2 separate regions of the Homo sapiens genome follow, and region 2 is linked to region 1. Evidence: fine-mapped expression QTL. A gene starts in region 1. The other region holds a variant in brackets. All regions are shown on one strand. Distances are from middle to middle.

Region 1 (5,512 bases):
CCACCTCGGCCTCCCAAAGTGCTGGGATTACAGGCGTGAGCCACTGAGCCTGGCCATAGTGATATAATTTTTAAATTGCACACGATAAGACAACATTCCCATTGTTGGGGCAGGAGTGCTGCCCCAACCCCACCACCAGGAATGTTAGGCAACCATCAGGTGATGGTCAGGTGGTTGTTAAACTTGTCTCTAAAATAGTAATTGGTTGCAGCCAGCACCAGGGAAAGGCAGTCTCCAAATAGATGGAAAACACTTGAAACTGATGATCAGCAGCTTCTCGATAAGATCTCAGAAGTTGGGTAAATGGGCTCAAGCTTATGCACCAAGAGGCAAAATGGCGGAGTTTAATGGTACATGCCCTTCCTCCAGGAATGCTAGATCTGTAAGGGAAGAACGTCTTAAGTGAGCATGTGCACTTCAGTATACTGAACACACTGTGCTTGTGGCCCCTCCAAGTGCTGGCAGGCCACCGTGCATGTGGACAGCCCATGCCAAGGTAGGAATCAGGGGAGAAGAGATGCAAACCGTAAATCCCTGGAAGCATGCCAGCATATGAAACCCCAAGTCAAAGGTCAAACCAGGGACTTGAATCTGTCAAGTCATTCACGCCTGGCCCTCTTCCAAGTGTACTTTACTTCCTTTCATTCCTGCTCTAAAACTTTTTAATAAACGTTCACTCCTGCTCTAAAACTTGCCTCTGTCTCTCCCTCTGCCTTATGCCCCTTGGTGGAATTCTTTCTTCTGAGGAGGCAAGAATTGAGGTTGCTGTAGACCCCATGCAAATTAGCTGCCACTAGCAAGGGCAAGGCAAGCTATGGAGAAAGAAGTTTCATGGGGCTAAAACTCAGAATTTGAGTGTGGAGCAGGATGGGGTAGATGGAAGGGGGTTAGAGTGCTCAGTGCTCACAATCTGTCAATGAGGGTAGAGAGGTGGCATGGCATCAGGTGGTCCAGGTAATGCCAGGAAAAAGCTGGACTGTGTTTGTTAGGGAACCCAGGAGACATGATGACCTTTAAAACACCATTTGGGCTGGGCGTGGTGGCTCATGCCTGTAATCCCAGCACTTTCGGAGGTCGAGGCGGGTGGATCACCTGAGGTCGGGAGTTCAAGATCAGCCTGACCAACATGGAGAAACCCCGTCTCCACTAAAAATACAAAATTAGCCGGGTGTGGTGGTGCATGACTGTAATCCCAGGTACTCAAGAGGCTGAGGCAGGAGAAACGCTTGAACCCGGGAGGCGGAGGTTGTGGTGAGCCGAGATCGCGCCATTGCACTCCAGCCTGGGCAATAAGAACAAAACTCCATCTCAAAAACAAACAAAAAAACATCATTTGGATCCACTCACCTTACAGATATTTCATTGAGTGCCTGCAGTGTGCTAGAGTACTGCAGAGCAAGAAATAAGTCAAGATCCTAACCCTTAGGGAGCTGACATTAGCAGGAAGACAGAATTAAAGGAGCTGTTAGAATACAGTGGGATAAATTGCTCGGCGAGCACACAGGAGGGGAAACTAGCACATCTGAAGGCAGGAGCGAGGCAGGGCGAAGGACTATTACCCAAAAAGTAAGGCAGTGTTGTAGCTAGGTGTGCATGTGTTTGGTGCAGGGGCTGGGAAGAGTTCCAATGCTAACATTTAGAGCGAAGAGATTGAGACATTGAGAGTTTCGCTGGGATTAAGACCACATGGACTTAACAGCTCCACTCCATTCTCCACGTTGCAAAGAGTAAACCTTTAAAAATGCAAATCTGACCTCTTTTCACTTGTTTTTTTGTTTGTTTTGGGGGGAAGGAGTCTTGCTCTGTCACCCAGGCTGGAGTGCAGTGGTGCGATCTGGGCTCACGGCAACCTCCGCCTCCTTGGTTCAAGTGATTCTCCTGCCTCAGCCTCCTGAGTAGCTGGGATTACAGGCATGCACCACCACGCCTAGCTAATTTTTGCATTTTTAGTAGAGACAGGGTTTCACCATGTTGGCCAGGCTGATCTCAAACTCCTGACCTCAAACCTCCCAAAGTACTGGGATTACAGACCATGCCCAGCCTCTTTTCACTTTCTTAAATAAGCTCCCCACTGCTTTGAGGATAATGTCCGTGTCTCTTACAAGACTTGGGAGCCTTTAAAACCTGATCCCAGATTAGCTACCTCTTCCCCCCTTTAATTTTATGCTTAGGACAAGCTGAGTTTTTCTTAGTTTGTCATATCCTATTTCCCTGCCTAGAAACCCATCTCCCCCTGCCCTCTTATCAGTTTTTTTTTATAATTTAAATTTTTTTTTTTTTGTAGAGACAAAGTCTCACTTTGTTGCCTAGGCTGGTCTCAAACTCCTGGCCTTAAACGATCCTTCTGCCTCGGACTCCCAAAATGTTAGGATTACAGGTATGAGCCACTGCGCCCGGCCCTCCTGTCCCTTATCTGGGTCTCCCAAAACTGGATTAAGATTAGGTGTCACTCCCATTTGCTCTTGTAGTCCTCTGTGCTTCACCTACTAGATCTCGTCAAATTCTCTGAATTCACCACTAGCATGAACTCCTCCAGAGCAGGAAGCAGTTTAATTATCCTTGTGTCCAAAACAACTAACTGAATACTCCAATGCCCAACTCATTTTGAATGAATGAAGCTGCCTTCATTGCAGGGTCGGGTGGAGGATTTTGAACTCGGAACTTTGGCCTTCAGTCTTTGTTATTACAGTTTAAAGATTCATTCTCGGGCATGGAGGAACAATTTAGGTCAAAATCACAAAAATCTGAAATAATTTAGGACGAGGCGTAAATTTATCTGCAAAGATCAACACGCTCAAACGAATCACTAATGCTCATCAGTCTTTTACTTAAAGCAAACAAGGTGGAGGGTAGCTCCTTGCGAAACCTACCACCTGCCTAAAAGCGCAGTGGCTCGGGTGGTCCAGTCCCGGAGACTTTCTTGGCACTTAAGGCTCTGCCCACGGGCCGCCAAGTGGCGGAAGAGCCTCACGCACGACGTGCCGCCTCACACTCCCGCGGAGGCATCGCGACGCAGCGACGGCGTGGGCGGAGAGGCCGGCCCTTCCTCTGGCGCCTTCGGCTCCTCCCCCTGCGCCTCACACGCTCATTGTGAAGCGACAGCGGCCGCCGGCTTCTAAGGCGGTTTGAGACCTTAAGACCCTAAATCCTTGGCGCGCGTGAGCGCCCGCGCCGCTCCTTACCCACTCCCAGGGCTAGGGGTGCGAGGTTCACCGACTTGATTCTCTCCCACTTTCCCGCCGGGAGCTAACCGCGCCGGTGTGCGCGGCACCTCGCGCCACTGCTCGCTCCTGGCCCCCCCCCCCCCCCCCCCCCCCCGGGAGCTCCCACCCGCGCGCTCCTCCCTCTCCGCTCCCCGGCGACGCGCACGCGCGCCAGCCCGGCTCGCGCCCTCTCGCTTTCCTCCAGCCGCGAGACCCCCTCCCCTTCCGCCTCGCGGCGCTTCCTCGCGCCGCGGTCTTCTCTCTCCACCCCCGACACCGCGGGGCTCCCCCCGCCCGCCCACGGCGGGCCCCGGCTGCCCGATCCCCCTCGCTTCCCGCGCTCTCCAGCGGGGCCCCAGCCCCGGCCCCCTCTCTCCCTCCCTTCTCTCTAATTCCCCTTCCGGACGCTGCCATCATGTTGAAGCCTCAGCCGCTACAACAGCCCTCCCAGCCCCAGCAGCCGCCCCCCACGCAACAGGCCGTGGCCCGTCGGCCCCCCGGGGGCACCAGCCCTCCCAACGGCGGCCTCCCGGGGCCGCTGGCCACCTCTGCGGCTCCTCCCGGGCCTCCAGCGGCCGCCTCCCCCTGCCTGGGGCCTGTGGCCGCTGCCGGGAGCGGGCTCCGCCGGGGAGCCGAAGGCATCTTGGCGCCGCAGCCGCCGCCGCCGCAGCAACACCAGGAGAGGCCGGGGGCAGCCGCCATCGGCAGCGCCAGGTGAGAAGGGTGGGCTCCGGGCGAGGGAGCCGCGGCCACCCAGAGGCTGTGGCTCGGTTCCGGTGGGGCGGACCCCGACCCGGCACCGTCAGGGGCACCGGCTGGGTGGGGAGTCCCCGTGAAGCTGGGGGAGGGCCCCCTCAGGTCCGAACAGGTCGGACGGAAAGGGTCCCCGGGCGGCCACCGGAGCACTGAGGGGCCGCGCTCGGCTCTCGGGGCCTAGTCAGGGCTCGCAGCCCCGGCCTTCAGGGGAGGCGGGGCGCATCCCGCCGGCGCCGTCGGAACGGGGAGTTGGGGGGGGGCAAGGAGCTGATCGGGGTCCCCGGTTCCATTACCACGAAGGGTCTCGCGGTCCCCGGCTTCAGCCAATGGGGAGTCTGCTGCGGGAAGGGGTCCCCGGCCGTAGCCAATGGAGGGGGGCGCGCGGCCCACAGTTTGGCCAATGGGGAGGGAGGGACTTGGGAGCGGGTTGCTGCCTCCCCCTTCCCGGTCTGGCCAGTAGGAGGGGAGCGAGGTGGGCGGGGGGACGGAAGGAGGGATGACTGGGAGGACTGCGGGCCGGGAGCCTCTGGCGCGCGCGCCCCCTTCCCGTACGTGCGCGTGGATGCTCGGTCTCATGACCCGGGCATTCGCGCGCCCCGGGAACACCTAGGGCAGGGACTAGTTCGTGGAGGGGCTCGTCTGGTGGCAGTGCATGAGTAGTGGAGGCCCTGCTCAGTTTTTCCTGTGCGAGTGTGTGTGTGTTAATGGAATTAAGAGTGGCAGCACACGCAGGCGCAGTGGGCTCTGATCGCTGGAGGTGGGGGTTCGGAAAGTCCCGTGGGTTTTAGTGCGCAGGCGCAGACCGGGCGAGGCCTCCCGGTGGATGGCTTTTGCGGCTGCGCTGTCCCCCAGCCCCGCCAGCGGCCCCCTCTTCGCCCTCAACCGCCGGTTACATCAGCCAGCGACGAGCAGGGTTACCTGGCGATTGGTGATCCCCGCAGAGTGGGTAACGGGCTGAATGAGTCATGAGGTCGAGGGGATGGGGTGTGGAGGGGATACCCCTCCTCCCACAGTTTTGAGGCGTCAGGCTGCTGAAAATGATTGTCTTTTCTGTTTGGGAGGTAATGTACCTGAGCTAGGTAGTTCCAAAGCTGCACTCCTGGAGCTTTTGCCCTCACAGCTGGCGTGGCTTTTTGGTTAATACTGTAGCATTGATCTGTTGGTAGCCTGCAGCCCTAGCCCCTTTCTCGTTGGTTCTTAGAGCAATTGACAACCATTGTTGATTGAGATCTTTTTGCTGGCATTTGGAGGAAATGTGTTTGCTGGCTTATTAATGTCTATTTTTTTCTTCCTCTACAAGGTGACAGTTTGAAAATCTTATTTATTGGCCGGGCGCAGTGGCTCACGCCTGTAATGCCAGCACTTTAGGAGGCAAAGGTGGGAGGATCCCTTGAGCCCAAGGAGATCGATACCAGCCTGGGCAACACAGATGGGAAATCCCATCTCTACTAAAAATTAAAAAAAAAAAAAGCCAGGAGTGGTGGTTCGTACCTATAGTCTCAGCCACTCGGGAGGCTGAGGCAGGAAGATCACTTGAGCCTTGGAGGTTGAGG
Region 2 (5,000 bases), 88 kb after region 1:
GAGATGGAGCCTTGCTCTCTCGCCAAGGCTAGAGTGCAGTGGCGCGATCTTGGCTCACTGCAACTTCTGGCTCCCAGGCCAAGTGATTCTTCTGCCTTAGCCTCCCAAGTAGCTGGGATTACAGGCACGAGCCACCACACCCAACTAATGTTCTTTTTCTTTTGAGACAGAGTTTCACTCGTTACCCAGGCTGGAGTGCAATGGCGCGATTTCGGCTCACTGCAACCTCCGCCTCCTGGGTTCAATCGATTCTCCAGCCTCAGCCTACCGAGTAGCTGGGATTACAGGTGCCCGCCACCACACCAGGCTAATTTTTGTATTTTTAGTAGAGATGGGGTTTTGCCATGTTGGGCAGGCTGGTCTCAAACTCCTGACCTCAGGTGATCCACCCACCTTGGCCTCCCAAAGTGCTGGGATTACAGGCGTGAGCCACCGCGCCTAGCCCTGACTAATTTTTTTGTATTTTTAGTAGAGACAGGGTTTTACCGTTGGCCAGGCTGGTCTCAAATTCCTGACCTCAAGTGATCCGCCCGCCTCAGCTTCTCAAAGTGCTAGGATTACAGGTGTGAGCCATCGCGCCTGGCTAATAAGCCATATTATTAAGAAAAAGTTGACAAAGGCTAGGCATAGATCCATGATGGCAGCTTGCTATAAACCAAAGATTATGATAAATTCAATCTTGTGGCTCGCGTGTCACTTAAAAATAGCAAACCAACCAAATGACTGCTTCCTTCCTGCCAAGCATTCTGTTAATTCATTTTCTTTTGATGCCAATGCTGGAAAGCATGTATGGTTCCATTTCTCAGATGAGGAAACTGAGCCTTAGAGAAGGCAAATGAGTTAGCCAAGCAAATACACAGCACCCTGGCTGGTCGTGACCAACGCTCTGCCCTGCCTGGGAAGAAGGGGCCCTCACGGTGGCTCCAGGCTCTCAGTGCCCACACTCAGCTTACTGGCACAGAGCTGGGCAGTGATTCCTCCTCGCCCTGCTCCTGCTGCGAGCCCTGGGGGGCTGAGGATGGCAGCTGCTCGGCCCGGAGCCCTTGGTTTTCCTCATTCAACCGCTTTACCTCATGGTGCAGGCACTTGTGGGTGGTGACCAGCTCCGCCTATGGACAGACAGTTAGTATAAGGCAATGAAGAGGACAGGGCGTCTCCAGTCCCTAGGAGGCCAAACCTCCTTGAACCCTCCTCCCAGACTGACAGCAAGAGAGCCCATACCCTCTCTGTTCCTAAGCAAGGAAGGAGCACTTTTTGCTACCAAGCTCTTCAGACACCTCTGTCCCTGCTAACACGCAGATTACAGGCTGCTGCCAGGGCCCAAGCCAGATATTTTACTTGGTCTATATATATATATATATATATATACACATACACACACACACACACAAATATTTAAATATATATAAATTTAAATTTTAAAAAATATATATTTTTTTGAGACAGAGTCTCCCTCTGTCACTCAGGCTGGAGTGCAATAGAGTGATCTCGGCTCACTGCAACCTCCGCCTCCCGGGTTCAAGCGATTCTCCTGCCTCAGCCTCCCAAGTAGCTGGAATTACAGGCGCCCACCATCACGCCTGGCTAATATTTGTACTTTTAGTAGAGACGGGGTTTCACCATGTTGGTCAGGTTGGTCTCAAACTCTTGACCTCAGATGATCCACCTGTCTTGGCCTCCCAAAGTGCTGGGATTACAGGTGTGAGCCACCGTGCCCGGCCCATATATATTTTTAAAACCTTAAAGTAGTTGCCAATTCTAAAAATTAAGAGACAAGCCAGGCGTGGTGCCACACACCTATAACCCTGGCTATGGGGGAGGCCAAGGTGGGAGGGTCACTTGAGGCCAGGAGTTTGAGACCAGCCTGGGCAACATAGTGAGACCCCGACTCTACAAAAAAATTTACAAATTAGCTGGGCATGGTGGTGTGAGCCTGTAGTCCCAGCTACTCAGGAGGGTGAGGCTGCAGGATTGCTTGAGCCCAGAAAGTTGAGGCTTCAGTGAGCTCTGATTGCACCACTGCACTCCAGCCTGGCCAGCCTGAGCGACAGAGCAACACACCATTTCTTAAAAAAAAAAAAACAGGAGGCCGGGCTCAGTGGCTTACGCCTGTAATCCCAGCACTTTGGGAGGCCGAGACGGGTGGATCACGAGGTCAGGAGATCGAGACCATCCTGGCTAACACGGTGAAACCCCGTCTCTACTAAAAATACAAAAAAAAATATTAACCGGGCGTGGTGGCAGGCACCTGTAGTCTCAGCTACTCGGGAGGCTGAGGCAGGAGAATGGCGTGAATCTGGGAGGCAGAGCTTGCAGTGAGCCGAGATCGTGCCACTGCACTCCAGCCTGGGTGAAAGAGCGAGACTCCGTCTCAAAAAAAAAAAAAAAAAAAAAAATAGGAGACAATACACAAATATTCATATTTTTGGTTTCTCTTGAAAAATCAGAAAATCTGGCAGCAGGGAACCTGTGTTCCTAGGTGGCCACAGTCAGCAAAGCCCAGAGGCAGGAGCCCCTTGCAGGGGCCTCTGGTTCCAGGCCGCCTACTGCCCTCCTACCCTCCTGCCCTACACCTGGCCCTGTTCAATCACGTATGTCTCCTCCCCAGTCTTTGTCAGTATCTGATTTGCTTTTTTTTTTTTTTTTTCTTTGAGACAGTTTTGCTTTCACCCAGGCTGAAGTGCAATGGCGTGATCTCGGCTCACTACAACCTCTGTCCCCTGGGTTCAAGCGATTATCCTGCCCAGCCAAGTAGCTGGGATTATAGGCGCCCACCACCATGCCCGGCTAATTTTTGTATTCTTAGTAGAGATGGGGTTTCCCTGTGTTGGCTAGGCTCGAACTCCTGACCTCAGGTGATCCAACCGCCTAGGCCTCCCAAAGTGCTAG[G/A]ATTACAGGTATGAGTCACCTCGCCCAGTCAGATTTGATTTTAATCCTCATGACTCTGCAAACTAGGGCCCATTATGTCAGTTTTATAGATGGTGAGGCAGAGGCTGGGAGTCTGGGATTAGCTCAAGATCAAACAGCTCTGTGTGGCTGCAGGGGCCCTGTTCTGGCCACGGCACCAGCTGCCCCAAAACCCTCTTACCTACCTGGCACCGGTTCCAGGGTGTGGCCTGAGCAGCTGGGGACAGGACAGGTTCCTTGACTTCCCACGTGCCCCCTTCCACCACGTGCAACTGATTCCTGCTGGACTCCTCGCCCTCCTGCCCTAGGGCCCCCAGGTACTCACCATCTGCAGCTGCACCCGCTCCTGGGCCTGGCTCACGGTCCCTTGCAGGGTCCGCAGCAGCTGCTCTGAGTTCTGGACCTGGGCCAGGAGCACCTGCATCTGGGTTGGAGGGAGGGCGAAAGTGAGGGCAAGGGCATGTCAGGGGGCGGCAGGTAGCCAGAGGCCGGCTGGGGCTGCAGCAGCGGCAGGGACCCACCTGCTTGGCACAGTCCTCATTGCTCCGTCTCAGGCCCTCTTGGAGCTCGTCCCGCTCGCGACTGACGCTCTCCAGGTCCTTCTGCAGCTGTCGGCCCTGCCACAGACCCTGCCTTCAGCCTGCATCTCCCAGGAACTTGGCCCCCCTCACCACACTTCTCGTGGCCCACCTCTGCAGGGAGGTGCCCTCATCCACACAGTCCGTCAAATTACAGGCCCAGCCATCCATTCTCTTCCCTTCACTCCCCACCCATCAGCAGGCCCTGCCAGGTCCACCTCCAAAGTGGATTCCACAGGACTGGGTGGAGTGGGGTCACGCCTGTAATCCCAGCACTTTGGAAGGCCGAGGCGGGTGGATCATTTGAGGTCAGGAGTTCAAAACCAGCCTGGCCAACATGGTAAAACCCTGTCTCTACTAAAAATACAAAAAATTAGCCGGGCGTGGTGGCGGGACACCTGTAATCTCAGCTACTCGGGAAACTGAGGCAGGAGATTCACTTAAACCCAGGAAGCAGAGGTTGCAGTGAGCAGTGAGCAGAGGTTGCCGTGAGTGAGATTCCGTCTCAAAAAAGAGAAAAAAAAAAAAAAAACAGGGCCAGGCATGGTGGCTCATGCCTATAATCCCACCACTTTGGGAGGCTGAGGTGGGTGGTCAGGAGTTCAAGACCAGCCTGACCAATATGGTGAAACCTTGTCTCTACTAAAAATACAAAAAAAGTAGTTGGACGTGGTGGCGGGCCCCTGTAATCCCAGCTACTGGGGAGGCTGAGGCAGGAGAATCGCTTGAACCTGAAAGACAGAGGTTGCAGTGAGCCAAGATCAGGCCACTGCACTCCAGCCTGGGTGACAGGACAGGACTCCATCTTAAAAAAAGTGGATTCCAGCCGGGCATGGTGGCTCGCACCTGTAATCCCAGCACTTTGGGAGGCCGAGGTGGGCGGATCACGAGGTCAGGAGATCGAGACCATCCTGGCTAACATGGTGAAACCCCGTCTCTACTATAAACACAAAAAATTAGCCAGGTGTGGTGGCAGGCGCCTGTAGTCCCAGCTACTCGGAAGGCTGAGGCAGGAGTATGGCATGAACCCGGTAGGTGGAGCTAGCAGTGAGCCGAGAACCACACCACTGCACTCCAGCCTGGGTGACACAGCGAGACTCCATCTCAAAAAAAAAAAAAGTGGATTCCACATCCACCCATTTCTTCCTGTCTCTGCGGCCATCCCCTGGTCCAAGGTACCACCTTCCTGTACACCACAGTCCCAGCCTCTCAGCTTCTCCTGTGTCCCCTACCCCAACACAGCCCCAAGTAAGCTTTCTTTCTTTCTTTTTTTTTTTTTTTTTTTTGAGATGGGGTCTCACTCTGTGACCCAGGCTGGAGTGCAGTGGCGCACGATCTCAGCTCACTGCAGCATCGACCTCCTGGGCTCAAGCAATCCTCTCATCTCAACCTCTCGAAGTAGCCTGGATCATAGGCATGTGCCACTGTGCCCAGCTACTTTTTTGTGTTTTTTTGTAGGACAGGGTTTCATCATGTTGCCCAGGCTGGTCTCAAACTCCTGGGCTCCAGCATTCT

The links. PIP is the estimated chance that this variant, and not a neighbour inherited with it, causes the effect.
Region 2: its variant is fine-mapped to the expression of ATXN2L in whole blood (INTERVAL, PIP above 0.99).

The regions. Positions count from the first base shown.
Region 1 is chr16:28,819,642-28,825,153 of GRCh38, forward strand. ATXN2L (ataxin 2 like) reads left to right here and starts at 3,358. Exons shown (of 22, transcript NM_007245.4): 1 at 3,358-3,917. The coding sequence starts at 3,619. It overlaps LOC124903672 (a long non-coding RNA gene), which reads right to left and starts at 4,401. Exons shown (of 2, transcript XR_007065042.1): 1 at 4,253-4,401; 2 at 1-380. RefSeq lists enhancers at 2,637-3,373, 2,885-3,094 and a silencer at 3,415-4,564.
Region 2 is chr16:28,907,656-28,912,655 of GRCh38, forward strand. RABEP2 (rabaptin, RAB GTPase binding effector protein 2) reads right to left here. Exons shown (of 13, transcript NM_024816.3): 6 at 3,429-3,524; 7 at 3,233-3,331; 8 at 954-1,109. Among named protein-coding and RNA genes, the nearest start is that of RABEP2, 15 kb to the right of the region's middle. The variant G/A (reference allele first, on the strand shown) is at 2,890.